Linked DNA regions of Homo sapiens. The protein of the gene in region 1 interacts with the protein of each later gene in a pairwise test. Each region holds a gene or a part of one and is shown in the gene's direction. Other genes may lie near its edges. The genes, in order: SEC23B and HOXA3.

Evidence for each region.
Region 2: the proteins of SEC23B (region 1) and HOXA3 interact in binary tests that used the Homo sapiens proteins (3 or more experiments, as listed by UniProt).

Annotation. Positions count from the first base shown.
Region 1 is NC_000020.11:18,508,407-18,520,303, forward strand, and holds part of SEC23B (protein transport protein Sec23B), read left to right. Parts: intron 1-2,415; 5' UTR 2,416-2,429; coding exon 2,430-2,650; intron 2,651-3,818; coding exon 3,819-3,876; intron 3,877-7,243; coding exon 7,244-7,330; intron 7,331-11,897. UniProt on the Homo sapiens protein: Component of the coat protein complex II (COPII) which promotes the formation of transport vesicles from the endoplasmic reticulum (ER).
Region 2 is NC_000007.14:27,146,960-27,159,758, reverse strand, and holds the start of HOXA3 (homeobox protein Hox-A3), read left to right. Parts: upstream 1-7,175; 5' UTR 7,176-7,471; intron 7,472-8,077; exon of another isoform or gene 8,078-8,184; intron 8,185-8,808; exon of another isoform or gene 8,809-9,451; intron 9,452-11,984; exon of another isoform or gene 11,985-12,009; coding exon of another isoform or gene 12,010-12,451; exon of another isoform or gene 12,452-12,596; intron 12,597-12,799. Other genes in the region: HOXA7 (homeobox protein Hox-A7), read left to right, coding at 3,214-3,592, 4,537-4,850; HOXA6 (homeobox protein Hox-A6), read left to right, coding at 12,010-12,451. UniProt on the Homo sapiens protein: Sequence-specific transcription factor which is part of a developmental regulatory system that provides cells with specific positional identities on the anterior-posterior axis.

The DNA of each region.
Region 1 (11,897 bases):
GCATATTCTCCTGTTATCTTTCCAGGCCTTTCATTCATTCACTAATTCATACTTTCAGTTATTTACCTCTTCAGATACCTTCCCCGATACTTTGGTAAAAGCTATGGACCCATCTCCCTAGAAAAACGGCATATTCCCTCATGCGCATAACTTCAGATGATTAGTGGACCTTCTATAGTCCCCTTGGATTATGTGTCCACTGCTAAGAATCCAGACCCTAGAAGGGTGAGGGAAACAGGCAGTAGGAAAAGGAGGGAGCAGGTCTTAGGCTGTACATGCTTGGAAACCATTAGATGGAGGCAGTAGCTTCTTTTTTTTTTTTTTTTTTTTTGAGATGGAGTCTCGCTCTGTCGCCCAGGCTGGAGTGCAGTGGCGTGATCTCGGCTCACTGCAACCAATGCCTCCCAAGGTCAAGCAGTCCTCCCTGCCGCAGCCTCCCGAGTAGCTGGGATTACAGGCACCTGCCACCACGCCCAGCTAATTTTTGTATTTTTAGTAGAGACGGGGTTTTGCCATGTTGGCCAGGCTGGTCTTGAATTCCTGACCTCAGGTCATCCACCGGCCTCGGTCGCCCAAAGTGCTGGGATTACAGGCGTGAGCCACCGCGCCCGGCCGCCAGTGCCTTTTAATAAAGAACGTTTTGAGAGAGAGACGGTTATTTAATGAAATCTGCTGACATACTTGCTGAGAGTTGTGATAGAACTTGCTTTCATTCCGACTTTAGTTATCCCTTTGCTTCCCATGAAGCTCCAGAGTGCTTCCTGTGCACACAGTGCTTCAGGTTCTTGCCGTTGCCAGAAATAAACAGATTTCTTAGAGTTTCAGTTGGAGCAAACATTGGAATTCTTGTGTTCTGGGCTTTATGTAGTAGAGTAATTCATTTGCTTTTCTAGCCATGCAATATTATTGCCTTAATCAAAATTATTTACAGTATGGTACTTCCCAAAATAACAGACAGTTGTTATCCATATTCAGGAAGTGGGCGCGAGAGGCCACTTTAATTTGATAGACTCTTTAATTTGCCTTTTTACTACTTTTCTTGAGGGGCTTGTTCCCTTGAACCCCAATAGCTGAGTTGTGTGTTACCCTAGATTTTAGGATATGAACAGGATGTATAAATACTCAATGAAGTTGGGATCATCTGGGTTTGAGAGTTTAGCCTGTAGGACAGTTTTACTGACCACAGTCTTCATTTTTTTTTTGAAACAGAGTCTGGCTCTGTCGCCCAGGCTGTGCAATGGCATTGTCTCGCCTCACTGCAATCTCTGCCTCCCGAGTTCAGACGATTCTCCTGCCTCAACCTCCTGAGTAGCTGGGACTATGGGCACGTGCCACCACACCTGGCTAATTTTTGTATTTTTAGTAGAGACGGAGTTTCACTGTGTTGGCCAGGCTGGTCTTGAACTCCTGACCTCGTGATCCGCCCATCTCAGCCTCCCAAAGTGCTGCGAGTATAGGTGTGAGCCACCACACCTGGCCTTGACCACAGCCTGTCAAGGCATGAACATAAGCAACCGTGGTGAGGAAAGAGGTTCTGGTGAGACTCAGCATAATAGTAATTTTGGTAATACCAAGTAGAAATAATTTAGCTCAAAACTGGTTCCCATTATGAACCAAACTTGAAGATCAGTATCCAGCTCTTTTCTCCAAAGTTAACAAAGTGCGGAAGGGAATGAGCACCCCCCCGCTACTGAAAAAAAAATCACTTGGAATGTAAAATTTAATAGAGGAAGAAAGGAAGGAGATTAGAGAGGAAGATAGTTGGATGCCGAAACAGGGTTCAAGACTTACCCTTGAGCAAGGGGCTGAAATTGGCTTGACTGATAGGACGTGTGATCTGTGAGGAGGTTTGAAGTAGTAGTGTTTAACTACATGTAGTTTGGAGATGATCAGGTGATTGTAAACCTCCCACTCCTTTGATTTATTTTTAAGTGCTTGAAAGGAGAGGTGAGAAAGGAGCAGTGATCAATGATAACTGTGCGGTTAACTGACTTTTGGGTATCAGATGGAAAAGAAATACTGTCATTCTACAGCAACAGGTTCTTCCCAAGTATTTAAGAAACACTGTGTTAGTTGGGCCGGGTACAGTGGGTCACGCCTGTAATCCCAGCACTTTGGAAGGCCAAGGCGGGTGGATCACCTGAGGTCAGGAGTTTGAGACCAGCCTGGCCAACATGGTGAAACCCTGCCTCTACTAAAAATACAAAAAATTAGCCGGGCTTGGTGGCACAGGCTTGTAATCCCAGCTACTTGGGAGGCTGTGGCAGGAGAATCGCTTGAACCCGGGAGGTGGAGGCTGCAGTGAGCTGAGATGGGAAAAAAAGAGAAACACTGTGTTACATGACCCATCTTCTTTTTTTGACATTTAGTTCAGAATTTCACATACCATTAAGGTAATTAAAGTTTTATCTTCAGTTCCCTTTTAGACTATGGCGACATACCTGGAGTTCATCCAGCAGAATGAAGAACGGGATGGTGTGCGTTTTAGTTGGAACGTGTGGCCTTCCAGCCGGCTGGAGGCTACAAGAATGGTTGTACCCCTGGCTTGTCTCCTTACTCCTTTGAAAGAACGTCCAGACCTACCTCCTGTACAATATGAACCTGTGCTTTGCAGCAGGCCAACTTGTAAAGCTGTTCTCAACCCACTTTGGTATGGATTCTTTTGAAACTGGTAAAAATGATAAATACAATATATTATGAATTTTATGTGATGCTCATAAAAGTCATTAAATTTGGGCAGGTCATCAAATTTGTGATAAGTAGTAGATGATGAGACTCCTAAACGATTCTTGTGGTGAGTAGTAAGTGGTGAATATTTGTAGAAATCTCCCTGGCCTGATAATTCCAGATAAAATTGGAATCTTACAGGAATGAGGTAGAGGTAGAGGGAGAGGATTTGTAATTCACTTTTTTTTTGGCTGATAATCAGTTTGCTTTTGGCTTAACTGTAGACTTTATTGATTCCTCTTAAAGTAATTTCCCAGAAGAATTCGAAAGCTTAGACCGTCTTCTCATGCTTCCCGGGTACAGTGATGCTATATGGCAAGGAGAAGTAGCAGGCAGAAGAAATTTTAACTGTTAACAATTTGTTAAGTGTAATTTTTTTTTTTTTTGTGCCTGAGATAGTGACCTATTTCTTTTAAATGTGGGCATTATTTGAAATGATTTTTAAACAGGTAGAGAGTGTCATAAAATTTTTATATGAGGGAACATTTTTTACTTCATTCTCATTGCTTTTATTTAATGTGCCCATATGTGAATGCATAGCCACTGGTTATTAATTTTCTAAATGTAGAAAATAAGGGAAAAGTAACTGAAGCATTATCTTGAACCAATTTGAGGAAGTGAAATGTGCTTGCCCAACTTTTCTTAAAATGGGCTAAGTCAGGTTAAAAATCTAGAAGCATTTTCCTGTGTGTGAAATATGCTTTTAATGTTGGAATTTAGTAGTTTCACATAGCCGGACAATAAAGATGTTAGAAAAAAATCATGAAGAGTATGTTAAGATAAAAGGCAAGAGAGAAATAATGTATAATTTATATAAATCATGACATTTAAAAAATTAGGAAATTGGAAAAGAGAAAAAGATTTAGTATTTCTTCACTGTGGCTGTTTGATGGAAATTGTGGTGTACTTAGCCAGAATTCTAACTGCGGTGAACGTTTTGCATACTCATACTTATGCATACACATAGAAACACTTACTTGTGTGATTTACTGAACTTGAAATTTACAAATGAACGCTTTCTACCTTAAAAATAAAAATTTTATTTTAAAAATAAAAGTGGTACCTACTTATAATATTTATCTTTCTCACAGTCAGGTTGATTATCGAGCAAAACTTTGGGCCTGTAATTTCTGTTTTCAAAGAAATCAGGTATGTGAATTATTTTTAAAAAATGTTATATGTTTTATTTTAGTTGTATTATGAAAAAAATTAAGTTAGGTTGAATTTGTGTTTACACTGGCAGTGAGCAGTTTCTGCTGAACTCAGGGTGATAACTTTTGTTAAGCACAATATTGAATTTGAACATTTGTGGTTTATTCTGTTGAGTGGTTTTCTTGAGTCCTTGTCATTTGCTTGGGGCTGGGGAGGGGGTGTTCATTGAATTCCCTTTTCTTACACATTTTCTGTAGGCAGTGAATCTGTGACCCAAAGAAAGCACCTGTTTTTCATATTTCTCTTGACTTCAGTATATTCTGATTGGATAGTGTATATTACTGAATTTTCATTTTCTGATCTTTCTAACTTTTAGAGTCCAGGTATCAGTGTTGAGCTTCTTTTGATTTAAAAATTTTAAAAGTACCAAACTAGAAGGAGCTCACAAATCACAAGAGAGACTTCTCTATAAAAGTAACTGTGCGGCCAGGCCTAGTGGCTCATGCCTGTAATCCCAGCATTTTGGGAGGCCGAGGTGGGTGGATCATGAGGTCAAGAAATCGAGACCATTCTGGCCAACATGGTGAAACCCCATCTCTACTAAAAATACAAAAATTAGGCCGGGCGCGGTGACTTACGCCTATAATCTCAGCACTTTGGGAGGCTGAGGCGGGCAGATCATGAGGTCAAGAGATCAAGACCATCCTGGCCAACATGGTGAAATCCCCTCTCTACTAAAAATACAAAAATTAGCCAGGAGTGGTGGCAGCCACCTGTAGTCTTAGCTACTCAGGAGGCTGAGGCAGGTGAATCGCTTGAACCCGGGAGGCGGAGGTTGCAGTGAGCCGAGATTGAGCCATTGCACTCCAGCCTGGCAACAGAGCAAGACTCCGTCTCAAAATAAAATAAAAAATTAGCTGGACATGGTGGTGCGCACTTGTAGTCCCAGCTACTCAGGAGGCTGAAGCAGGAGAATCGCTTGAACCCGGGAGGTGGAGGTTGCAGTGAGCTGAGATTGCGCCACTGCACTTCAGCCTGGCAACACAGCAAGAGTGTCAAAAAAAAAAAAAAAGTAACTGTGCCTGTAGTGGAAATGTTCTAAAAGTGGATTGTGGTAATTATTGCACAACTGTACGTTTTCTAAAAATCATTGACTTGTATAATTAAAATGAGTGAATTTTATGTTGCGTAAACTATACCTCAATAAAGTTGTTAGAAAAAATTTGTGTCCAGCATAGTGTACACTGTTCTAACAGATCTTAAGCTCTTCACATGCATTCGTTCATATATTTGATCATAATTACAATTACTCATTCTCAGATACAGCATATAAGTCTAGTGATGAAGAGGACAGTGTACAATTGATGACTGACCATAGGTTCGGAAACTATAAGCAGATGTCATTTAAAATATATCTTCATGAGAGATTCAGAAGTATATAGAAATCTTAAAAGCATTTCTGCTCCCTATTACATTTAGGATTAATGTCTTTGTTTAATATAATTTATTATAGTAATTCTAAGGCAGGGTAGCATAGTGGCTAAAGAGCCAGAGATCTGTAGCCAGACTGCCTGGGTTTGGCTCTCAGATCTACCACTTATTTCCTGTGTAACTTTGGGTAGGTCACTTAACTGCCTGTGCCTCAACTTCCTTGTCTTTAAAATTAGGATGATAGTATAGTATACCTATAGTCACTTCATGAGATTATTGTGAGAATTAAACTGAGTTAATGAGTATAAAGGACTTAGAACAGTGCTTGACACATGGTAAGTGCCATATAAGTATTTGGTATTATTATGCTTACCTAAGATTGTCACCTGCCAATTTATAAGTATGATCTGCAAGTCTATGTGTCCTAAGTGGAAATAATCTTTTGTAACCTTCCTAGCTGGACAGTGTGGGGGTTTTCTAGCTCTAAATGAATGTAGAGCTGGAAGACGGAGGGATCAGGGTGATCTCCGTCTCCTTTGCTCCCTTCTGTGCAGCTGGCTGACTGCGTGGGTGAACAGGGCCTCTCCAGGTTGCTGGGAGGTGGCTGGTGTGTCTGTAGTCATAGATCGAGCTTATCCCTGCTGGGAGCTGCAGTCAGTGGGCAGTCATGGCCAGGATGGGGCTAGAGTCTTCTGCTGGCTCTGACTGAGATTCTTGCTGGGGCTCGCAAGCTCAGTTGTACCCTTCTCTCCCAACCAGAGGCCCCTAAAGCTGCCTGTCAGCTCCTCAGCAGCACTTGCATTTGGTCACTCTGAGGTCACTGGCCTGGAGTGATCATCTGCTCACTTTGGGGAGATGCACCTCAACTTGTATTTTTAATGTAAAGCTAAAGACTATTTGGATTATAAGCCAACCCACAAGCTGTGAATTTAAAACATTTGCAGAGAGTTTTAAAAACAAAAGAAAATGCCTGTGGCATTATGTTGACTGGAAAAAACAAGTTCCACATTGTATATATGGGATGTTCTCAACTGTGCTTAAGTCTGGAAGGAAATCTGCCAGGAGGTTGACAGTAGCTGCTTCTAGGTGATAGGATTTTGGGGGGCTTTTCCTCCTTTGTTTGCTTCTATTTTCCTGGACTTGCCAATTTTTCTACATTCCGTATGTATTACTTTATTGATAATAGCCAAAATAATAAACCTAAATAAAGTCTTTGGCTTTATTTAGACTATTAACTATTGATGAGATAGGTGAAATCTCAGCCTTTAATTTGCAGGGCAAAACTTAAGAAATGGTTTTCATTTGTGTGTTTTTGGCTAGGCATGGTGGCTTATGCCTGTAATCCCAGCACTTTGGGAGACTGAGGGGAGAAAATCACTTGAAACCAGGAGTTCAAGACCAGCCTGGGCAACATAAAGTGTGCTTTTAAACATTTAGAAGTTACAATAGCTTAAAACTGCTCTAAAAAATATTTTTTAAGAGGACAGAAATGATATAAATATAAGGCAGGGTTAGAAGTTTTAAATGCTGATTTTTATGTTTTTTAACGTGTCCTGTATTTTGTGCTTTCAGAATAAATACATGGTCATTACCATTTTTTTTCTTCTTTTTTGAGACAGAGTCTTGCTCTGTTTCCCAGGCTGGAGTGCAGTGGCGCAATCATGGCTCACTGCAGCCTTAACCTCCTGGGTTCAAGTGATCCTCCCACCTCAGCCTTCTGAGTAGCTGGGACTACAGGTGTGAGCCACCACGCCCAACTAATGTTTTTACTTCTTGTATACAGACAGGGTCTCACAGTGTTGCCCAAGCTAGTCTGGAGCTCCTGAGCTCAAGTGTTCCTCTCGTCTTGGCATCATTATCATTTTTACACATGGAAAATAAAAAGTGTAATATAGTTATGCCAACCCTAATAAAACTGTTTCCTTCTTTTCAGTTTCCTCCAGCTTATGGAGGCATATCTGAGGTGAATCAACCTGCCGAATTGATGCCCCAGTTTTCTACAATTGAGTACGTGATACAGGTAATTTCTTTGTTGTGCATTTAATGAGCAATGTTAAATACTGAATTTCTCTTGAAATCCTTTGTCTTCCATGTCTCTTACCTGGGCAGGGGACTTAAAGCTGTGAGGGCAGCAGGATCCTAACCTTTAGGTTTGATGTGTGTGCATCTACTGGCATTGTTTTCAAGTCCTGACATTATAGAAGGCTACTAAAAAGGTAGAACTGATTAAATTCCAAACCTGTTCTCTGTAGCCTTCTTCATCTCAGTTGATGGTACTCCATCATCTAGTTGTTTAGCTTCAGAACCTTAGACTTATCCTTGACCTCTCTCTTTCATGTTCCATATCTAATTCACTGGAAAATCCCATTGGCTCTATATTTGAAATTTATCCAGAATCCACCCACTTCCCCCTCCCTACTACCAGCTGCCCTGGGCCAGCCACTCCTTCTTACTTGAATCTTCTAATTGTTCTCCCTGATGTTACCATTGCCTATTTATACATTATTCTTCACCCAGCAGCCACAGTAATTCTTTTTTTTTTTTTTTTTACAAATTGTATTTATTCATTTATTCAGTGAGGAAAGTTTGTTTTGCTTTCAAATATTGGCCTTTGTGAATAATGCTTCAATGAATATAGCTGTTCAAATAACTGTTTACCCATATGTTGGAGGTTTGCATTTCTGCTACATTGTGTTTTATTGGAAAACTTGTCTGTCTTTATGCCAGAACTAAACTGTTTTTATTACTGTAGCTTTGTAATGTGCTTTGAAATTAGAAAAGGTGACATTGTTTCTTTTTTTTAAACATTTTTGGGCTCTTTTTTTTTTCTTTTTCTTTTTTTTTTTTTCTTCTGAGATGGAGTCTTGCTCTGTTGCCCAGGCTGGAGTGCAGTGGCACGATCTCGGCTCACTGCAAGCTCTGCCTCTCGGGTTCACGCCATTCTCCTACCTCAGCCTCCCGAGTAGCTGGGATTACAGGCGCCTGCCACCACGCCCGGCTAATTTTTTTAATATTTTTAGTAGAGACGGGGTTTCACCATGTTAGCCAGGATGGTCTCGTTCTCCTGACCTTGTGATCCACCCACCTCGGCTTCCGAAAGTGCTGGGATTACAGGCGTGAGCCACCGCACCCGGCCACATTTTTAGGCTCTTTATTGTCCTTTGAGATTCCGTATAATTTGTTGGTTACTTTTTCTATTTCTAAAAAAAAAAAATTGTTAATTGAAAAGGGATTGCATTGAATCTGTAGTTCACTAGGCAGCATGAACATCTTCACAATATTAAGTCTTACAACCCTTGAACATGAGCATGCTCAAAAGTGAGTTTAATTTCCATATATATGTTGATATTTTTGCTTTCTTCTGTTATTGATTTCTAGTTTTATTCCATTTTTATCGGAAATAATTATCTCATGTGTCCGTGTGAAGAGACCACCAAACAGGCTTTGTGTGAGCAACAAGGCTCTTGATTTCACCTGGGTGCAGGCAGGCTGAGTCCGAAAAAGGAGTCAGCAAAGGGTGGTGGATTATCATTAGTTCTTATAGGTTTTGGGATAGGCAGTGGAGTTACGAGCAATGTTTTGTGGGCAGGAGGTGGATCTCACAAAGTACGTTCTCAAGGGTGGGGAGAATTACAAAGACCCTTCTTAAGGGTGGGGGAGATTACAAAGTACATTGATCAGTTAGGGTGGGGCAGAAACAAATCACAGGTGGAATGTCATCAGTTAAGGCTATTTTCACTTCTTTTGTGAATTTTCAGTTGCTTCAGGCCATCTGGATGTATACGTGCAGGTCATAGGGGATATGATGGCTTGGCTTGGGTTCAGAGGCCTGACATTCCTGTGTTGTTATATTAATAAGAAAAGCAAAACAAAATAGTGAAGTGTTGGAGCAGTGAAAAAATTTTGGGGGTGATATGGAGAGATTAATGGGCGATGTTTCTCAGGACTGCTTCTAGCGGGATTAGGGGCAGCGTGGGAACCTACAGTGGGAGAGATTCAACTGAAGAAAGATTTTGGCGTAAGGGGTGATGTTGTGGGGTTGTTAGAAGGAGCATTTGTCGTATAGAATTATTGGTGATGGCCTGGATGTGGTTTTCTATGAATTGAGAAACTAAATGAAAGACACAAGGTCCAAATAAGAGAAGGAGAAAAACAGGTATTAGAGGACTAAGAATTGGGAGGACCCAGGACATCCAATTAGAGAGTGTCCAAGGGAGTTCAGTGTAATTACTTGTTTGGTTGGTGAGTTTTTGGGCTCTATTCTTGACAGAGTCCTTTTTGTTAAGTTGGAGGCTGAGCTTGGTGAGGTGTGTTTTTAAAAGACCATTAGTTTGTCCTACCGTTCCTGAAGATTGAGGATGGTAAGGGGTATGAAGTTTTCACTGAATACCAAGAGCCTGAAAAACTGTTTGGGTGATTTGACTAATAAAGGCTGGTCCGTTATCGGACTGTATAGAGGTGGGAAGGCCAAACCAAGGAATTATGTCTGACAAAAGGGAAAAAATGACTGCAGTGGCCTTCTCAGACCCTGTGGGAAAGGCCTCTACCCATCCAGTGAAAGTGTCTACCTAGACCAAGAGGTATTTTAGTTTCCTGACTCAGGGCATGTGAGTAAAGTCAATTTGCCAGTCCCGAGCAGGGGCAAATCCCTGAGCTTGATGTGTAAGGAAGGGAGGGGGCCTCAACAATCCCTGAGGAGTAGTAGAATAGCAGATGGAACACTGAGAAGTGATTTCCTTGAGGATAGATTTCCACGATGGAAAGGAAATGAGAGGTTTTAAGAGGCAGGCTAATGGCTTGTAACCTACATGGAAGAGATTATGAAATGACAACAGAATAGAATGGGCCTGTGAGGCTGGAAGGAGGTTTTTTTTTTTTTTTTTTTTTTTGTCTAAGAACCATCTGCCTTGAGTGGAGAGGGATTGATAGGTGGAAACTTCAGTGGGAGAGTAAACAGGAGTGACCAATGAGAAGGAGAAAAACTGGCCATGAGGGACAGAAGTTGGAATGCTAGCTGCTTCTTTAGCTACCTTATCAGCAGAAGCGTTGCCCTGGGTGATGGGATCTGATGCCTTTTGGTGGCCCTTGCAGTGTATGACTCCTGCTTCCTTTGGAAGTAAAGCAGCCTTTAGAAGAGTTTTTATTAAAGAGACATTAATGATGGAGGACCCTTGTGTAGTGATTTTCTGCCTATATAACAGCATGGTGGTGCAGGATATGGAAGGCATATTTAGAGTCAGTATAATTATTGACACGTAATTCCTTTGCAAGAGTGAGGGCTCAAGTTAAGGCAATGAGTTCAGCTTGCTGAGAGGTAGTGGAGCCGGGCAGAGTGGTAGCCTCAATGATAGATGTGGAAGATACTATGGCATAGCCTGCCTTTGCTGGTGTGTGGCGATTAGGCCTGGTGGAACTGCCATCAATAAACCAGGTGTGATCAGGGTGAGGAATAGGAAAGAAGGAAATATGAGGAAATGGAGTGAATGTCAGGTGGATCAGAGAGATACAGTCATGTGGGTCAGGTGTGGTATCAGGAATAATGTGGGAGGCCGGATTGAAGTGCGGGCCAGGAACAATGGTAACTGTGGGAGACTCAACAAAGAGTGAGTACAGCTGAAGGAGCCGGGGAGCAGAAAGTATATGTGTCAGGTGTGAGGAAGAAAATAGATTTTCAAAGTTATGAGAACTGTAGAGAGTGAGTTGAGCATAGTTTGTGATTTTGAGGGTCTCTAAAAGTATTAGGGCGGCAGCAGCTGCCGCACGGAGACATGATGGCCAGCCTAAAACAGTAAGGTCAAGTTGTTTGGACAAAAAGGCTACAGTGCGCGGTCCCGTTCCTTGTGTAAGAATTCCGACTGTACAGCTCTGCACTTAGGCTGTGTGTAATGAAAAGGGTTGGGATGAGTTAGGGAGACTAGTGTGGGGGCAGTCTCTAAAGCTGACTTCAAGGAACGGAAAGAGGAGTGGGGAAAGGATTTAGGATCTGTGGGGTCAGCTAGGTTTGCTTTTGTGAATTAATATAATGGTTTAGTCAGGATGGTAAAACTAGGTATCCAAAGGCAGAAGTACCTAACCATGCCTAGGAAGGAAAGGAGTTGTTGTTTTGTAGAAGAGATTGGGGTTTGGGAGATTAGTCAGACATGGTCAGCAGGGAGAGCACGGGTGTTTTCATGAAGAATTATGCCGAGATAGGTAATAGATGAGGAAGAAATTTGAGCTTGACTGAAGTAATGGGGGCTGTCCGCGAAGCCTTGCGGCAGTAGAGCCCAGGTAATTTGCTGAGCCTGATGGGTGTCAGGGTCAGTCCAAGTGAAAGCAAAGAGAGGCTGGGATGAAGGGTGCAAAGGAATAGTAAAGAAAGCATGTTTGAGATCCAGAACAGAATAATGAGTTGTGGAGGGAGGTATTGAGGATAGGAGAGTATATGGGTTTGGCACCAAGGGGTGGATAGGCAAAACAATTTGGTTGATAAGGCACAGATCCTGAACTAACCTATAAGGCTTGTCCAGTTTTTGGACAAGTAAAATGGGATTGTAAGGAGAGTTTATAGGCTTTAAAAGGCCATGCTATAACAAGCGAGTGATAAC
Region 2 (12,799 bases), on another chromosome or scaffold:
GTATTCAAGCCGCAGATAGAGAGCTCAATTTATGTTAACTGCAAATAAATAGTGAAGTCGCAGATCCGTGGATGCAGAGAGAAAGCTCGATTTGTGTAACTACAAATAAATGAAGTCACAGATCGGTGGCGACTGCGTCTCTCCACTGATCACGGAGGCCTCAGGTAGGTGCAGGCCGCCCAGGGTCTCCCAGGCCTGGGTGGACTGTCCAAAGGCTCCTCCCTTGCCCTTGGCAGGCTGGTGGCTGGGAGTCTGCTTTTCCTCTGGGAAGCCTGGGAGTGGCTTCCCCGCTGCGGACCTTCACCCAGGCAAGACCCCGCACCAACCCAATCTCATTTGTACACGACAGGTACGAGTTTGTCTTTGCACCCAGGCTAGGGATCACTCACTCACTGGATGGGGAACAGATGCAGCTGGTGAGAGAGGCAAGGGTGGAAACCTTTAGGAAGCAATTTGCCTGCCACCCAAATCTCTGGAAGGCGCTGTTCCCTGCCTAGAGCTGGCTTTACCTTCATAATTGAATTTAAATATTGGTATTTGGTAACAAGAAGCAGAGTGAACACGCTCTGCCAGTAGGTAGGAAGGAAGCTCAGGGACGGCAGTGGAAAATGTCTATCTAAACATAGCTCTACTGATTAGAAACCCGCCTACATGTGCCTGCTTCAGGCTGAGGGTCAATGAGTATTTCTGTGAAAATTATCTCACATAACCTAGTGCATTTGTGTCTTTTCAGTCAAATAAGTAGAGAACCAATGAATAGAGAACACACAGTTAAAGAAGCCTTATTGAAAGCCTGATTTTATCCGACCTTTTCGTTTTAAATCAGACCACAGAGGGCAAGAGGGGAGAAGGAAGCCTGGAAACGAAAGGGAGGTTTCGGTGTCCGCAGGACTCGGCCCAGTTGGCTGACTTGGGTCCATAAAGGCCGAAGCCTTGCGGGCAGTATCCGCATCCTCCTTGGCCGGGGCAGAGGGGCAGTGCGTCCTGCCAGAACCTCCTGGACGCGCATCGGGCAAAACCGGAGCAGGAATGAGCCGGTGGCGAGGGCACCCGGCCCTCCCTTGGCGAAGTGCGTTCCTTCCCGCGATCCCCGAAATCGCTCCCTGCTCGGGCTGTTGGACTGGGCAGGTTCTACTTTAAACACCAGCTCTGTTGGCCCCTTCAGTCGCTTGAGTCTAGACAGACGGCGGCGGCGGGGGCCTTGGTCTTTTCTCTTTGCGTCTTGCTGTGTGTCACCCCAGGAAAAATTTATTGGTCTAAAACGGTCTAATTCTGCCTCTTTGATCTCCTAGCCTTCTTGTTTGCTTCATCTTCCTTTAACTTTCTTGGGTTTTTATTTCCTTCCAGAAGGCGATGCGACTGGGATTATTTAGGTCTTTTCTTTTTGTCTTACTCCCTCTATTCTCCATCGGAGACAAGGTATCATCTGATCCGCCATAAAGGCGTCCCCGGATGTTGTCCCTCACTCCACACCCCTACCCCCAGGCTTCCGTGGCCCGGGAGGAGACAGCCCAGCGCCCACCTGCCCCACCAGCCCCCGCCTTCCTACCCAAGCCCCGGTGGTTCACTGCGCAGGAACTGGGGCTCCGTGGCGTCCCGATCTGAACCCTCCCTCCACCTTTTGTATTCCTGGGGCCCCCTGAGAGGGTGCGGTAAACGGGGACGGCCTGGACCCTCTGAAAGTGATGGGAAGTGCTCAGTACACAAGGAACTAAACTCTACAATTTACAGGAGAATTTCCGGGGCAATTCCATTGTGAGGTCGGGTTTATGGTGTGTAATCGAGCTGAGCAGTAAAAGGTGGCCGGGCTTCCAGCGCAGCCGGGCAGTTTATGAGGCGTTTAGGGGAAGGGTTCTCCCCACCATCCTCCACCGAGCGGTGGGCGGCAGGGGCTTCAGCTGGTGCAACATGGTGCAGGGGTCGGAGGCCTGGAAGGTAGGAATTGGAGGCCTGGATGGGAGGAAGTGAGACCACTGTGCGCTCAGCTCCATGTGAGCTGGTACTTGGATAGGTGAAGCCTCCACAGCTGGGTGGCCTTTAGGGGGTGGTTTCCCCTATTTGTTTTCGGTGTCTTCAAAAGAAAAGGAAGTCCACAGTGGGTTGCAGTCCCTAGACGCCAGAGCCCCCTCTCCAAATCCGCTCTAAAGCATGTATTGTTCCCAGGCACCCCGGCCTACCCCAGAAACCTTCCAGTATTGGGAGTGCCTGGAAGGGTGCAGGCCCGAGATTTTTCCAAGCTGGGGGAAACAGCCCTGGCTCCCCATGCGCCAGAGGGGAACCAGAAGTTGTGGAAAGGACAAAGGAATCTTTAGCAATTTATCGGACTGCTGGAGCCAGCCAGGTGCCCAGGAGCGAAGGCACAGAGCCTGCAGCACTACAGCGTCCGGGAGGAGGGAGGGGAACCCCACGTTAATAAATCTGTTGGCAAATGAGTCTCATTAATAGATAAATATTTCACTGCTTCCTTTAGGGCGGATAAACAGTGTGCCTCCGATTAAGGAAAGGAAGCTGGGAGACGTTGACTTTATTCGAACCACATGGCTCCAGTTTGCGGTGGCAATCTCTCTGCAGCTGCAAGAGATGCTGCGCCTTCCCCGTCTGGATCCGAGTCTAAGTCCGGCCTGTCGCCCACTGGACCTGGGTGAGAGAAGACTTGGGCAGAGTCGATCTGCTCATAGCTGAGTCCTGCCCACAAGGCCACCGCGGGGCAGGCTGTTGCGGGGGACAGAGACCCTTCCAGGGTCTGGGCAGGCGGACAGGAGAGGGATGGGGAGGATCCCAAGCTTGGTCCAGGGCTCACTAGCAGGAGTCGGCGGGGGGGCGGGGTGGGGGGTGCTGCGTGGGGCCGGGCCGCCTGGCGTCCGCAGACCCCAGTGCGGAGGTTGGCCGCCAGCTGGGCGCTCCCGCGGAGCCTCCAGGTCTTTTTCCGCGGGACGCGCCAGGCCCGCCGGGCGCGGGCGGATTCTTTGGCCGCATATTTGAGCCTCTTGCCCTTCCATTCTAGGCGGCTGCGGGCCCTGCGGAGCGAGACCACCTGTGAGGACTGCTGAGATTGGCGGAGGCGGTCATGTGGGCGGTCACGTGCTGCGGCGAGCTCCGTCCAAAAGAAAATGGGGTTTGGTGTAAATCTGGGGGTGTAATGTTATCATATATCACTCTACCTCGTAAAACCGACACTGAAAGCTGCCGGACAACAAATCACAGGTCAAAATTATGAGTTCTTCGTATTATGTGAACGCGCTTTTTAGCAAATATACGGCGGGGGCTTCTCTGTTCCAAAATGCCGAGCCGACTTCTTGCTCCTTTGCTCCCAACTCACAGAGAAGCGGCTACGGGGCGGGCGCCGGCGCCTTCGCCTCGACCGTTCCGGGCTTATACAATGTCAACAGCCCCCTTTATCAGAGCCCCTTTGCGTCCGGCTACGGCCTGGGCGCCGACGCCTACGGCAACCTGCCCTGCGCCTCCTACGACCAAAACATCCCCGGGCTCTGCAGTGACCTCGCCAAAGGCGCCTGCGACAAGACGGACGAGGGCGCGCTGCATGGCGCGGCTGAGGCCAATTTCCGCATCTACCCCTGGATGCGGTCTTCAGGTAGGCGCAGTCGCTAGGCGGGCCAGGCTGGCGGAGCGGGACCGGGAGCGGGGAGCGCAGCGCTGGGGAGCGCGGAGCGCGGGGCGCGGGGCCGGAAGAGCGGAGCCAGGCTGTTGCGAGCCGGTAGCCCCGTGACTCCCGGCGCAGCCTTTCTGGTTTTAATTGGAGCGGAGGCGCCATTGCGTGGAGCCCATAGCATTGTATGTAAATGAGGCTCATAAAACTTTTTATGGCCCAATTAATGGGTTCGATCCTCGTAAATTTATTTAACTCCATTTGTCTTGGAATTTTAACATTAAGTTTGTTCGCTATTCTGTCTCTCTTTCTCCCTCCTCTGTCACCCTCCCTCCCTTTCTTCTTCTCTCTCTCCTCATTTTCCTTGCTGCCTGACATTTCTTTCTCAAAAGCTAGGAGAGCCAAGCCCTCCAGGGCCTCTCACCCGACCCTGTGCCAGGGTCCATTTCAAGATGGGGGCGAGGGAATGAGGACAGAGGGTCGGGGTGCCCTAGGAAGGTCCTGGGGATGAGGGCTCAGGCTGCTGGGAAGAGTCGCCCACTTGCCTAGCAAGGCAGGGGAATGGCCGGGCTCATCTTTGAATGGCAAAAGTGCAGCGTTTCCCACTTGCTCACACTCTATATTTACAGTTTTCCTTTGTCAGAGGAAGCAGGACATTGTGGAAGCTTAGCCGGCTGGAAAGGTCGGTTGTAAAGTTGAGATTCTGTGCCTTTGCTCATTACAGAGCTGCCTGCGCGTCTGGCACTGCAGTTGGGGTCTTTCCCTAACACTCCCCCTCCTCCCCTAGCTCAGTTCGGGGCCTGGGGCAGAGGGGGATGCTCGCTGGGGACTAGGCCAGGAGGAAGGTGCGGGCTCTGGGACAGCAGCCTAACGAGTGCCCTGTCTACTTGTCTGTCCTTGTGTTCATGTGTCTGCATGTCTGTTCTCAGGACCTGACAGGAAGCGGGGCCGCCAGACCTACACGCGCTACCAGACGCTGGAGCTGGAGAAGGAGTTCCACTTCAACCGCTACCTGACGCGGCGCCGCCGCATTGAAATCGCCCACGCGCTCTGCCTCACCGAGCGCCAGATTAAGATCTGGTTCCAGAACCGCCGCATGAAGTGGAAGAAAGAGCATAAGGACGAAGGTCCGACTGCCGCCGCAGCTCCCGAGGGCGCCGTGCCCTCTGCCGCCGCCACTGCTGCCGCGGACAAGGCCGACGAGGAGGACGATGATGAAGAAGAGGAAGACGAGGAGGAATGAGGGGCCGATCCGGGGCCCTCTCTGCACCGGACAGTCGGAAAAGCGTCTTTAAGAGACTCACTGGTTTTACTTACAAAAATGGGAAAAATAAAAGAAAATGTAAAAAACAAAAACAAAAACAAAAAAGCAACCCAGTCCCCAACCTGCACTCTACCCACCCCCATCACCTACTCCAGCTCCCAACTTTTGTGGACTGAGCGGCCGCAGAGACTGGGTCGCCTTGGATTCCCTCTGCCTCCGAGGACCCCAAAAGACACCCCCAACCCCAGGCCAGCCGGCCCTGCTCTGGCGCGTCCAAAATACTACCTAGCACAGGCCTCTGCTCGAGGCACCCCCAAACTACCTATGTATCCAGCCCCAGAGGGCCTCCATTCCCAGGAAGTCCCTATGTATCCCAACACTGGCAGACACCCAGCACCACCCTCCCAGACCCGCAAGAAAGTGAATCTCACTACTACCTACTCCCCTAAAACTACCTATTTTGTGCTGGCTGGCTTGCCTGCTACCTAGTGCCGACTGCTCCCAGGCAAGTCCCCTGCTGCTTACAGCCCGCAGCTTTTGGGGTCCCTGAGGCTGCCCTGAGAATGTGCTGAGGTCCAGGATCAGGGTATTGGCATCTATTTAAATCGAAAAATAATATATTTATTCCAAAAAGCATCCTAAGTGCTTGCACCCTAGAATCAATCCCTCCTTCTCTGGCTTGGCACCCACAGCTCAGGCCCATCAACCCCCACTTCTGGAGGGGAATGTTCCTGAGCTGGCTGCAGATCTGTGGGTTAGCTTCTGCTTAGCAGGACTGTGGAGATGCTTCCAGCTTCGCTGTCCTTTCCTCTGGCTCCTGTATCTTACTGTTCAGCTGTGTTAAATATGTACGCCCTGATGTTTCCTATAATAGCAGATACTGTATATTTGAACAAGATTTTTTTTTATCATTTCTATAGTCTTGGAGTTCATTTGTAAGGCAGTGTCTTGACTTGGAAAGGATGTGTTAATGGGGTGACTTTGTAGCATGGTATGTTGTCTTGAGTTAACTGTAGTGGGTGGGGAGGTCCAATGCCCTCCGCAATGCCCTTCATCTCCTGTGTTGTCCTGTACCCTGCTCAGCTCCATCCTGGGGTTCAGGGAAGGCACACTTCCCAGCCCAGCTGTGTTTTATGTAACCGAAAATAAAGATGCGTGGTGACAAAGAAAAATGTGGACTGCCTTATCCAGAGGGGACTGGGAAAGGGGAGGTGAGTATGGCTGGAGGGCAGGGGGCAGTGGGGAAGCAAAAGTGGGGTGGCTGTCCTTGTGATGGTCCAAGTGTTGGGTACCCATGTATTGGTGTCATGTATCTTTTTAATGTATTTTTATGTGTGTATTTGTATGAGTATGTGCTTATTTTTCTGTGTATGTATTTCTGTGTGTGTGTTTTTACCTAATTCCACAATTGTATATATTTTGGTGTCCATAATTGGGTGCATGTGTTTTTGTGTGTCCATAATTGCATGTCATTCTGTGCCCACAATAGAGTGTATGCCCTTCCCTGTGTGCATAATTGTATATGTGCCTTTATCCGTGTAGAGACGTTTGTCTGGTTTTTGCGTGTGCACTAACATCTTCTAGATCCCTTGAAAACGGAATCTTTGGTAGATACGTTATATTCTATGAATCTACCTAAAAACCTCCATCAATTCCATGAGGAAATTTCAAATCCACACTTTCCTCTAAGGCTGAGCAGTGGGCTTGGAAAGGGGCATTACCCAGAGCTGATTCCGGATTCGCATGCGCCCTGAACCCAGCCCCAGGCTAGGAAATGGGATTTAAGGTCCCCACCCCGCCTGCAGACCAGGCGAGGGGGCCCCAGGGTCCGGCACTGCAGTAGGTGGCGCGGGGAGGGGCTAGGACCGCAGACCCCCGCTAGGCTACGCAGCCTGGGCAGGGGCTGGGGCAGCTGGATGCGGGGAAGGGGCGAGGGGTGAAGGTCCAGGGGTTGTGCGGGCAGCTCAGAGCATCCTGAGTTCCGCCTGCAAGACCTCGTCTCCAGTCTCCTGCCTGGGCTGGGCCCGCTTCTTATGGCTCTTTTAGTAAAACCTGGCCCAAAAGGGTCTGTAAAACCTGAGGCCCCAAGTCGGGGCGGCCTCGGTGGTAAGATGGCGCCGGTGTAAGAGCTGCCTCCTCTCAGTGATGGGGAAAGGGTCATAAATCCGTTGTTGTTTATGAAAATTTACAACTTTGCAATACAACTTTATGAGTTGTTCGGCCCTTCCATTGGCCGCTGTCGGTCATGTGGATGAGAACCGTGAACATGAACTTTTTTATAATTTCCCTTGCGAGAATAGAGCCGCATTCTTTTGCTCCGCTCCGTCCTGCCTGCTTCGGAGCTCTGCCTTCCAGCCGGGCTCGGCTGTGCTTTGTCCGGAGATGGCGAGCGAAGGGAAGCCCCGGCCAGGCCAGGCCTGGCGGCTCCCGCTGGAGATTGGGCGCGCTCCGTTCCCGGCGCCGCGGCAGCAGCTTTGCAACTCGCAACCTGGCTAATTTCCTGCGTCCTCTGGCACCAGGAAAGAGGACAATTCTTCTCTCGGGCTGCCCAAGCGACAGCTGTCAGAGGGGCAGGAGCTTCTGGGAGCCACCGTCTGAAGGTGAGACATGTGGGGAGGAGATAGGAGCAAAGGTGGTGAGGCGACAGCCGGCGGCGGTAGCGGTGGGAGAGGGCACCCAGGGAGGCTTTAAGAGGGGCATACTCCCCCTTACCCATACTCACCCATTCACACTTGCCCCCATCACACACTACAGCCCACACACGTCACACACACAGGCACACACGCGCGCACGCACACACACACACACACCACTCCCTTTCTCTCCCCTCCCTGGCTCGCCTTGGCAGTAAGTGCCCGCCTTCCTTCGGCCCTCCGTGGCACAGCGCCAAGGCACAGGGCAGCATCCCTTGGGTCGTCTCTCTCCCCTTCCCTAGCGACCCCGTGAAGCCCAAAAGGAAGTGGCCCGGCACACTGTGTTCCCCGCCAGCCCTTTGGGTTTGGATTTTTGTGTTTTCATTCATGGCCCTATTTGGTTTTGTTGGATTCCCCAACAAGAGGAGACCATCCTTGACCTGGGAAGGTGGGAAGAGGTGAGGGCAAAGTGCATTAATCCACAGGCATTTTATTAGCATCAGCACAGCACTTTCTACTCCGTGGGAATTGGTTTCAGAGAGAAAGGTAGAAGGGGGAAACAGAAAAACTTACTAATTCAGCCAGAGTTCTCCGCTCGTTGCCGGCTTCCCTTCGCCCGGTTTTTCGATGAGAGAGGTGTCTGAAGCGCTGGGAGGGGGAATAGGTGCGTGGGTGGAATTCTGTGTTGGAGGAGAGGATGGGATTAATTGGGTGTTACTTGGTGGGAAGTTTCGGTGCAGAGGACATAATGCTGTTAGCGCGCGTGGCAGGGTCCCGCAGCTAAGGTTGAAGGAAGGACGCAAACCGAGTCTGGGCGATAGGGGGACCCCCCAATCCACCTTGGCGCAACGGACTGGCGACCGCACTCCCCACCTTCCGCGAGCGGGGAGAGGATGGTGGAGCTGCCCGGGAGGAAGCGCAGAGCGTGCTGCTGGCGGTGGCTTTGCGTAGCGCGGTGGCTCGAACTGTAGCTCGGCCTAAGTGCACATCAGACCAGATTTGCCCCGAGAACTCCTCGGACAGCGACAAGAAAAGAGTCCGAGGTTCTTTTTGTTTGTTTTTTGTTTGGGTTGTTGTTTCCCCAACTTGAGACAATATCTTGGTATGGATTCGATAAATAGGAAGGGGCTGTGGATGTTTAGGACGTTAGCCCGTGCTCTGCGTGCGCTCGGGGCGGATAAAGCGGCGCATTTGCATCCTAGGTCCGCCGCCTTCCTGACTGCGGCTGCCGCGGGCCGATTATTTATTGCGACCGTGCTGGCGCTCGCTGCTGCCACGCCGTGGCCGTCGCCGGGACCGGCGCCAGCTGCAGCCCGCCTCTTGCAGCCTGGCGCGACTGCTGTACTGGCCCCTCAGAGATTTCCCAGCAAGCAGGGTAGAGGGGGACGCAAGGGGACCTGGGGGGCGATCACCCAGAGCCTATATGGCCGGGAAATCTCCCCGCCTCGGCTACCCCTGACCGGAGCTGGACGCCGTTATAGACTCGGGTCCTCCCCCACCCCCACTCCAGCACCATGGAGACTGGTTGCACAGGCCGCCTGGCACGTCATGGCTGCTTCTGTCCAAACTGCGCGTCCCAAGGCGTTCTGGGGGCGCACGCTGGTTCAGGGAACACTCTGGCTTTGGGATTCTGCAATCGGAGAGACTACCTGTAGTCCTGAGGCCTGTAGGCCTGGCTGCTCTGAGGAGGATTGGCTATGGCAAAGAAGGACGGCTTTGGCTCCAGGAGAGGGCTGTGAAGGGCAGAGGCCGCACCTGTGTGCTTTGGGCTCTGGTCTGGGCTAGCGAGCTGGCTGGACCGAGGTGGCCTTCAAGGTCCCACACCTACATACTCCCAGACCACCCTCCAGGCTGGCAGAGGTGGAGCTGTTCAATGGGCAGCCCAGGGCAAGGGCAGACAGTGGGGCCCAGCTCGCCGTCCTGCCCCCCTTGGAGAGAAACTGAAAGGTAAGTCGCTTTCTGCGTGGCTTTGGCAGGGAGGAGAGAGAGCCCTGGGGTGGCCATTCTCACCATCGCAGGAGAGGCCCTTTGGAGGGTCTGGGGTGCCTATTCTTGCCGGAATAGCCCTCTCTCTCTAGAGAGAGAGAGAGAGAGAGAATATCTGGTTGGAGAAATGATATGCACTAGCCTTGGCTAACATGTAAAGATTCCAATGTAATATATGTTTTTCCATCTTAGTGCCTATAGAAGCTAGAAATATAATGTTTTCTGGTTCTTAGCTGAGAAATCAAATTCTCTTGTTAGCTGGAACAATAATTAGATCGAGAATCCTGGTCAAGGCATGACAAATAATAATAATAGTAAATTGACACTGACCCACCACTATGTGGGACATGGCGGAATGAAAAGGAAATCATAAATGTAAACATTGATTGTCATCTCCAAACGGTTGTTTTCATTTTAAATAATAACTTGCTTAAAATCACTGTTGTCTGATAATTTTGTTTAAGAAAAAAATAACACAAACATGTTTTTCTTCAAACAGCTATTTTTAAAAGTCCCTTTTAATTTTTTGACTCGAGTTTTCATTTTCACCTATTGAATTCTTTCCCTGAAGTAATGTGTGGGAAATGCCCAATTCTATCCTCTCATTCGAGGCCCTGCTTTATATGCAAAGTAAACCCTTTCCAGGACGGATCGACTGGGGAACAGGCATCCGGCTTCCAGGGGTAGCCCCCGTTGCCGGGCTAGCAGCCGCCTTCCAGGAGTGCCTCTTGGGCTCTTCGGAGGTCGACCTTAGGCCAGTCCTTTCCCAATTTTTTCCCTTTGTGGGAGGAGAGTTCAGGAAAAAAATTGAAAAGCAAGGAAGAGACTAAGTCATTACTAGATTCCTACTGGAACACTGCCAATTGCCACCTCCCCACTAAGTCCTGAACCGGGTGAGCCTGCATTGGCCAGGGTTTTACAGATCTTGTAAACAGTCTCCAGAAATCCATCCAAATCACGTAAATAGTCTTTCTTCAACCTCCACAGAATTGAGGATTTTAAAGCTAATTCAAGGGGTTTTACAAGCCCAACAAACACAGTTGTAAAAATGCCATTGGGCTGCTATCACATTTTACAAAACGAGATTGATCCATGTGTTGTAAAAGTCAACTATCTCGAAGGCACACCTCTCAGGCAAGAGTGAGCAGCTCAGGACAGGCTTTTAATGTCCTGTCTGGGGACCGCCAGGCCTGGGACAGCAGTGAAAGCAATTCAGGATTTCTGGAGCCGGTGAGACTATTCCCGGTTCCGGAGCGACTGAGGGGCGGCAGCCCTCCCTGCGGTCCCAGGAAGGGCAGTAAAGAGGGCGGCCCCAGGACAGTGCCGGTTGTCGGGCGCCCCGGAAACCGAGCCCATCAATTATCCCGCGGCCTTGGGCCCTGCAGAGCTGCCCTCTGTGCCCAGCTTGGCCAGGGCCTCTGCGTCTTCTGTGCCTCTGGAATGTGGACAGAGAGATTCCACATCTGGATTTTTATCTGCCTCAGCTCTGAGCGGTTCTCGCAGTGGATGCTGAGTCCCCAGGCGCTAGGCAGGGGAGCAGGTCCCTCGGCTGTCTTAGGAGCCCAGTCTCACGGCCACTGCTCTGTCGGTCCTTTCTTGTTGAAACCAGTGGTTTCTGGCCTTTCAATTCCCTGGGTTCAAAGGTGGGATGGGGACGCCCAGCTGGAAGGAGTGCTTTGACACCAGGCAGGCGCGGGCCATTGAGCCCCTTGGGACTCAAACAGGATGTGTATGTGGGAGGAGGGAATGGGTGGGAAGAACCTACGTTTGGCTGAGTCCTGGTCAGCTCGAGGTGATCCTTCAGCTCTGGGCTGCAAGGCCCAGGCCCCTGGTGCTAGCGGAGAAGGAGAGAATGAGGGAGTTCACCGATTCCTAAGGCGCACGAGTGAAGAGCATAGAGTGAAGGCCTGGTTTCTCATGGCCCTTGCTCCAGCTCAAGAACTCGCACCCACGAATAGGGGAGCGCTAGGGGAGGGGCAACTCTGGGCCGTGCCTGGAGTGCAGGCCGGCAGGGAGCAAAGCCACCTTTGTCACTGCCCCTCCTGGAGCAGGACCTTCAGGTTTCCTGTTTGGAGGAGGAGGGGCGGGGAACCCGCAAAATTCAATAAAGCAAAAAGGGGAGGAGGAAGGAGGGGACCTGGCGGGGCCTTTGAGGCGGCCCAAGCATTAGTGTCCCTACTCTGGCCTGATCTGCTCGCCACTGAAAGGGCCGTGCCCGCCGCTGGCGTTCGGGAAGAGAGCCGGGCCGGCTAGCTGTGCGCGCCCATTAATCTGCCGGGCGGGCGGCGGGCGGGCGGGCTGGGGGCTGTTTGTAACTTTGCTGCCTCGGTCGCCGCGGTCCCCGGGGAGCGGGCTCCGGCGTTCGCTCCCATTGGCCGCCGCCGCGTCAGCTGGTGCGATTTGCTGCTGTCGCTTTTGGCGTTCGGCCATCCAGAAACAAACCAGTTCGATGACTACTAATAGTTATAGCCAGATGTACTAATACACAACAAATCACAGTCCTGCAGAGGGGCGCGCAAATGAGTTCCTATTTTGTGAATCCCACTTTCCCCGGGAGCCTTCCCAGCGGCCAGGACTCCTTCTTGGGCCAGCTGCCCCTCTACCAGGCTGGCTATGACGCGCTGAGGCCCTTCCCGGCCTCGTACGGGGCGTCGAGTCTCCCGGACAAGACGTACACCTCACCTTGTTTCTACCAACAGTCCAACTCGGTCCTGGCCTGCAACCGGGCGTCCTACGAGTACGGGGCCTCGTGTTTCTATTCTGATAAGGACCTCAGTGGCGCCTCGCCCTCGGGCAGTGGCAAGCAGAGGGGCCCCGGGGACTACCTGCACTTTTCTCCCGAGCAGCAGTACAAACCCGACAGCAGCAGCGGGCAGGGCAAAGCACTCCATGACGAAGGCGCCGACCGGAAGTACACGAGCCCGGTTTACCCTTGGATGCAGCGGATGAACTCCTGCGCGGGTAAGACATATCCCAAGACAGTGGAGGGAGAGGGGAAAGGAGGCAGGAAAAGAAAGAAAGAAGGAGGAAACAGAGTAGAAAGAGGAATAGAGAGAAAGAAAGGATGAAAGAACCAGCAAAGTTTCTTTGGCTTCTTAAAAGAGAAGAAAAAATCAGTTCCCAATGGGGCTATCAGGCCATGGCAGAGGAAGGGCAAGGCCCCAGTGTCCATGTAAGCTGACACCTTAGGGGAGGATGGGGGCACTGGCACGTATATGAGACCTGTGACAGGGACAGCCTGAAGAGAGAGAGAGGCTGGTGGGGAGGGACAGCCTGTCCATGCACCCTGAGTACCCTGCTCAGCTTCCC